2 separate regions of the Homo sapiens genome follow, and region 1 is reported to be linked to region 2. The links are microRNA targets in miRTarBase. Many come from high-throughput screens and were not tested one by one. Region 2 holds a microRNA gene; the other region holds the end of a gene's coding sequence.

Region 1 (3,507 bases), not on the chromosome of region 2:
GGGGCGGGAGGGGGGTGGACGGGGGCAGGGGCGCGAGCCCTGCCCTCGGCGCGGGGGGCCACTTGGGCGCGGCCAGGCCTGGGGGCCTGGGCACAGTGAGCCCCGAACCCTCCTCCCGCGCCTGCGAGGAAGGCAGTTTTCTGGGCAGATGCTGGAAGGAGCTGTTGGGCTCGAGAGGTCCCACCGCCACCGCGAGGCTGCTGCCTGAGTGCAGGGTCCTGCAGCCGCACCGAGCGGCCCCTCCGAAGGCCGGCGTGCCTGCCGCCAGGTGCGGCTCCGCGGAATTCCAGCTTCGCCTGAACTAAAAGCAGCTGTGCAGCTTTCTGCCTTCATTGAGAAAACGGGAGCTGTGCCGTCGCCTTTCCTCCTGGGCTGCCTCCGACCCAGCACTGAGAAACCGAAACTCCCCGGGGCTGGGTGTGTGAAGGAGGGACAGGGAGGAGGCGACAGCCCAGGACCCTCCAATGCCCCCGCCCCGCCCGCCCAGTGTGATGTCCTTCTAGTCGTGGGATACTGAGCTTGGAAATGGTCATGAAATAGGGGTGCAAAACTCAAGCGACTCTGACAATTTTTTAGAAACGCTTATAGTCCCTGGGGAAACAAAGAAGGGGACCAGAAGCTAGGAGGGGACAGCATCCTACCAGACTCCAGGGTGTTCATTAGCAAGGAAGGATTTATTTTTTCTTTTGAGGGGAGGGCGGAACAGCCGGGATTTTTGGAACACTACCTTTGTCTTTCACTTTGCTGTTTGTGTGTTAACACGAATAAATCAGAAGCGACTTTAAATCTCCCTTCGCAGGACTGTCTTCACGTATCAGTGCAGACAAGAAAACAGTGGCTTTACAAAAAAGATGTTCAAGTAGGCTGCACTTTGCCTCTGTGGGTGAGGCACACTGTGGGAGAGACAAGGTCCCCTGGAACCAGAGGTGGGAAGGACAGAGCTGGCTGACTCCCTGCTCTCCCGCATTCTCTCCTCCATGTGTTTTGAAGAGGGAAGCAACATGTTGAGGTCTGATCATTTCTACCCAGGGAACCTGTTGTCCCCTGCCCCTAGTTGCTGGTCTGTTTCAGGTTTATTTTGGGGTCGGATTATTGGCCCTGTGGGTGCAAATGTCTACCTCTTGCCGTAATTCAACCCTATTATTATCACTCTTTATGATTACTAAGTAGATGTCATCCAAATCAGTCAAGACTCATCATCTGTTAACCTGATTTAGGGAAGATTGTTTCTCTCCCATTCCTGCCAAAAGAGAGCATCCTGAAATAAACGCCACCCTCCTTCCCCACCTCATTATATGTAGAGCTCAAATCATCCTCCTGTCCTGGGTAAGATGGGATCTACCCAAGAATGGCAGCCATGGCAATGAGGCCTGTTTCTAGTCTCTGCATTTCCCACAGTTTGTATTACTCTCTAAAATTTTGCAATCCATGCATTGTTAAAACTGTATTGCCTAGGAACCTACTGAAGAACAGGTGTTCACCCTGGTACTCCCACTGATGAAAATCCTCCGTTACATTTATAATATGGGAAACTGTCTCTCCCTCTCTCCAGGAGGCATTTTCTCTTCAGACTGCAACTGAAACATGCAAGACATTGCCACTGCTTCAAGTGAAATCTTTACAGATGAGGGAAGAGTGAAAAAAATACTACCCATTGGTTCACACCCAGTTGAACTTTTGCATTCCTAAAAAGGTGGATGGTTTTGTTTTGACAAAAACACTATGACATTTAAATTGCTTTTGAAATTGCCCTGAAGACACCTTTGATATTTTAAGATAGTCTTATGACAAAAAAGTTGTCAAAAAAATTGGGGCTCCAACTTTTTGAGCCCCAAATCGAAACCAATTTACCTGAAAATATCTGTTTGACTCTAGGCTTGTTAAGAACTCAACTTGCCTGCTAAGGATTCTTGGGGGAGAGAGGGACACTTCCCTCTCATTTGTTCTGGAAGCACTTAGGTGACTAATTAGAGGAGTAATTGGTTTTCAACTTTTAAAAAGCCCATGAATGGAAGTCCTATCTGGAAATCTGTCTAGCAATGCATCTCATACGGAAATCTGCAAGCCCATTCTATAATACCTTTATCGAATTATTCAGGAAAATATTTTTATCTCCAGAGGAAGTTTCTTGAGACCAAAACCTGAGCCCATTTTTTTGGGAGGGGGGACAGACATAAAAATCTCTCCACTTCCAACCCATCATCACAATGTGTTAAGTCAGTTGTTTTATTAAAAAATAAGCACTATGCTTGGGTTTCATAAAATTTATACATGAATATGTACACAGACACAAATAAAATAATATTAAAAATAAAAATCACACTTGCTTTCAAGGCAGTGGTCCTGGCACCCCACATACATAATCAACTTTTCCTTTAAAGAAATTGCTTGGCCCAAGGAGACCACAGTTAGAGAACCACTAATAAAGCTGTAGCCCGTTGCCTGCAACATTTTCAATTCGGGTTTCAAAAATATATAAATAATTTAATTACAAAACCCAACATTTTTTTTCTCTTTTGGCACAGTGAAGCATCGGTCAATAGCAAGAAATCACTGAAGAGCCTCTGACATGTCTCTCACACTCAGTCATACCTGGAAATGCCACATACGTACACGGATGGGGGCCCAGAAACCCCAAACAGTAGTCATATCATTTATAGTGTGGAAAGGTTCCCTGATGTACTTAGGGGGGAGGGAAGGGACATAAATCAATGGAAGTTGCGACAAAAACAGTAGAAATAAGACGAAGCCTGGGCGTTAAAGAAAGACAAAAAAAGTCCTTATGAAGGGAAGGAGGAGCAGGCTTCGCAAAGAAACTAAAACAAGAATTGCTTTGGTCCTCTGTAAAGTTATAAAACACAAAGGAAAATATCCTGGACTAAGTTTAAATACTCCTGTCAAAATGCTTTAGCTTTAAGGCACGTTTGATGGAGATTTTAAAAATTCATCTTCCTCTGGATTCAAAGTGCAAAGTCCGCGCGCGGGCCCGCGTTCCCGCCTCCCCGACGGCGCGCACTCGGCGTTCCCGGGCCCCGCGGCGCTACTCAGGCTAGGAGCGTCTCCACCGGGTACGGCAGGTGCGGGCCAGGGCGGCGGACTGAGGCCGCCTGCAGGGCTGCGGGCAGCCGCAGGGGGCAGTACAGGTGCGCGCCGCCGGCCGCCGGGCCTCGGAGTGGCTTGGCGGGGGCCGCCGCCGGGAGAGGTGCAAGCAGGAGGGGCGGCGCGGTCGGTGGCACCTCGGCCTCGCGCGCGCCCAGCCGCGCCGGCTCGCCCGCGCCGTACGCGCAGAGCGGCAGCAGGGCCCTGCAGGGCGCCGCGGGGAGGAGCGCGGGGAACGCGGGCAGCGGCGGGCAGGGCGCGGCGCCCCACTGAAGCGTCGTCCCGGGGGCCGTGTCCCTGAGGCGGCGGCTGCGGAAGGGCTTGCGCAGGATGCTGTCGATGGCGAAGGAGCTGGAGAACTTGCCCGCGGGGCTGGCGCGCTCCTCCTGGCGGGCGGGCGAGCGCATG
Region 2 (3,000 bases):
CCAGCACCCCCCAGCAGCAGACACAGGCTGATGCCCTGTCCTTGTTCTGCACCCCCGACGGCCCCATCCTTTCTGCCTCCCAAGCCAGACCCTACCATCAGCAGGTTCTCCGTGAGGATCAGCTCAGAGAGGTTCTCACAGTCCCCGATGGCCTCGGTCACCTCGCACAGCCGATTCTGGTCTACCTTTAGGATGGATAGCTGCTTCAGCTGACCTGGCGTCGGGGAGACAGGGGGACAAGGCTGAGCATGGTCCCCAGACGTGCCTTACCCACCTGGCCAGAAGCGCCCTCAAGGCAGACAGCAAGGCCCCCAGCCCCTTCTGCCGCCGCCGTACTTCGGGAGGACCCTACCTACCTTGCCCCACAAGCCTGACCCAACCTCCTTCAAGAAAACACCAGGCCCCAGTGGCACTGCCACCCTTCCGCCCTCACAGACTCCACCGCCCCCTCCAGCACCACCAGCTGCCTCCTCAGCCTTCTGGGCTGCCCCAGGGTCCCACCTCCCCTCCCCAGGGACAGCTCCCAGAGCCTGGGCACACTCAGGATCCTCCCCTGTGTTCCACACCACACACAGCCCCGACGCCCCACGCTCCTCCCAGGGCCAGGCTCCGTGTGCCCCACCCAGGCACCCCCAGGCACACTAACCGATGCCGTCGGGCAGCCTCCGCAGCAGGTTCTGGGACAGCAGCAGGTCAGTGAGCAGCACCAGCCCGCCGAGCTCAGCAGGCAGCTCCTCCAGCCGGTTTTCCGACACGTCCAGGCACACCAGGCGCCGCAGGTTCCCGAGCTCCTGCAGGTGGGCAGAGAGTCAGAGCGCGGATGGGCACGAAGCAGGGGGCCAGCCCCACCCTGACTCACCGGGGGCAGTGCTGACAGCTGGTTCCGGTCAAGCCACAGCTCCCGAAGATTGGGCAGAGCCCCCAGAGTGTCTGGCTGCAAGAAGGAACAGAGAAAATAGTGACTATGAGGCAAAGCCTCCTGCTGCGCCGTGCTCAAGAGACTATACGCCCCCACACCCAGCTCCCACCCGCCTGCCCTCCCGAGGTGCCCCTTGCTGTCGGATCTGCTCGCTGTCCCCTTCTTTGCCCTTGCTTCCGTGGCCCGCCCTCCGGTCTCTGCCCTGTCAGGCCTCCACGCACCAGCACTTCCAGATCGTTGCCTCCCAGATCCAGCTGTTCCAGCTTGACCAGAAATGACAGGGACCTGCAGAGGAAGCAGGGTGGAGGTGTGGCCACGCAGCCCTGGTCCCTGGGCTGTGGCCCTGCCCTGGCTGTTAGGAGAATGCCTGTCACACTCACGCTGGCAGGGACTTGAGCAGGTTCTCCCGGAGCTCCAGGGTCACCAGGTTGGCGAGGCTGAAAGAGAGACCAGGCGCTGGGGCAAGAGGAAGGAAAGCAGTGGCAGCAGGGGCAGGGCCAATCCTGGTCCCCCACCCCACCCTAGTTCCACCTGAGAAGGCACTCACTTGCCCACGTCCCCGGGCAGTGCCTGCAGAGACACATCATTCAGGGCCAGGTGAGCCAGGCTGCGCAGCTGAGTGAAGCCATCAGGGAGCCTGGATGGGAGGAAGCAGAGGCCCTCGGATGACCAGTCCAGGGCTGTGGGACCCATAGCCCCTACCGACCCCACCACAGGCTGCCACCCACCTGGAGAGGGGGTTCCCGCTGAAGTCCGCGATCTCCAGAGCCTTGCAGAACTTGATGCTCTCCGGGATCTCAGGGATATCTGTCACAGAGGGTCACAGTGGACAGATGCCATGGCCTGCAGGCCGTCTGCAGCCCCAGCGGACACTCCCCAGACCCCACCCAGCCCCTGCCCAGGCTCCCCACCGTTCCGGGACACGTCCAGCTCCACCAGCTGCATGAAGTTGGCCACCTCGGGAGGCAACCGCTGGATCTCGTTGTCGCTCAGGCCCAGCTTGCGCAAGTTCAGCAGCCGGAAAAAAGGCTGTGGGCAGGGAGGACACGGACTCTGTGGCAGAGACCACTGCAGAGCAGAGAAGAGCTCCTGGACACGTGAGTGTCACAAGTCAAGAGTCCCTAGGCCTCTGTCTGCTCCAGGTCACACCGGGTCCTGGGGTCTAACCACGACACCCCATTTGCAAAAAAAGGAAAGAAACACACGGTACACACGCCCACTGTGGCTGCCTCCCTCTACTCTTCACACCAGCCTCCACTCTGAGAAGACACCTGCTGGCGACCAGACAAAGCCCCAATCCCCTACCCTGTGTCTTACCTCAGGGCCCACCCAGCCCCTGAACCACTTCTGCCACCCTCCAGGGGCCCACACTGGCCTCTGCTACTGCATCCTGACAACAAGCCTGGCCTGGTTCTGCAGCAAGAACTCAGTAAACGCTCCCCACAATAACACAGTACCACAGGCACAGTGCTACGCGCGAGGCCTGCAGGTGGCCACAGAGGACCGAGCTGTCACTGCCACGGCCAGAACAGGGTCACATTCTTTGGGACACCCAACCCCTAGGTACTGATCACCCAGCACCCCATCTCCAGAAAAGAAATACTTTTTAATCTGCTTTCTCCAGCCTCCTTTCTTGTAGCAGCCTTAGGAGAGCACCTGACCACGAGAAGCAAGGGTAAAGAAAGGGGGACAGCGAACAGATCCGAGAGCAAAGAGTACATCAAGAGGGCTCCCCCACTCACCCCTGCACCCAGCAAAAAAGGAGAGGAGGTCTGGACCCACCTCCAGAGCGGCCCAAGAAGCTAGTACTCATCAGCCACCTGAATCCAAGTTCCACCCTAACCCCATCCACCTCCCTGAATCCCCACGGGTTTCACTCTGAGGCTCCGCCTCCAGGCTCGGTGACAATCGCTATCCCCAGGCAAGCACCTGATGACCGCTGCCACCTGCGCCAGCCAGGGCGGCTGGAAGAGAAGGGTGGGGCTGGCTGGGGTGGGGACCTGGCCAGTGCAAACCAGCAGGGCCGGCTGGAGGCTGCGGTGACTCGCCCGGGCAGATTCTGCCGCCGGAGGAATCACGGG

The links. Region 2 holds the annotated microRNA hsa-miR-937-3p (AUCCGCGCUCUGACUCUCUGCC, at 801-822, opposite strand). A microRNA usually pairs through its seed, bases 2 to 8, with sites in the 3' UTR of a target mRNA and lowers its output. Matches are read on the target gene's strand: a 7mer-m8 pairs with bases 2 to 8, a 7mer-A1 pairs with bases 2 to 7 and ends in A, and an 8mer does both.
Region 1: miRTarBase lists FOXQ1 as a target of hsa-miR-937-3p. Seed matches in the 3' UTR shown: 7mer-m8 at 2,974-2,980.

Annotation. Positions count from the first base shown.
Region 1 is chr6:1,313,454-1,316,960 of GRCh38, reverse strand. It overlaps FOXQ1 (forkhead box Q1), which reads right to left. Exons shown (of 1, transcript NM_033260.4): 1 at 2,203-3,507. The coding sequence ends at 3,045. Among named protein-coding and RNA genes, the nearest start is that of FOXQ1, 3.1 kb to the right of the region's middle.
Region 2 is chr8:143,812,171-143,815,170 of GRCh38, forward strand. It overlaps MIR937 (microRNA 937), which reads right to left and starts at 872; the gene lies at 787-872. SCRIB (scribble planar cell polarity protein) reads right to left here. Exons shown (of 37, transcript NM_182706.5): 2 at 1,831-1,948; 3 at 1,648-1,726; 4 at 1,467-1,556; 5 at 1,300-1,356; 6 at 1,141-1,204; 7 at 860-934; 8 at 647-791; 9 at 96-214. RefSeq lists enhancers at 1,981-2,645, 2,930-3,000.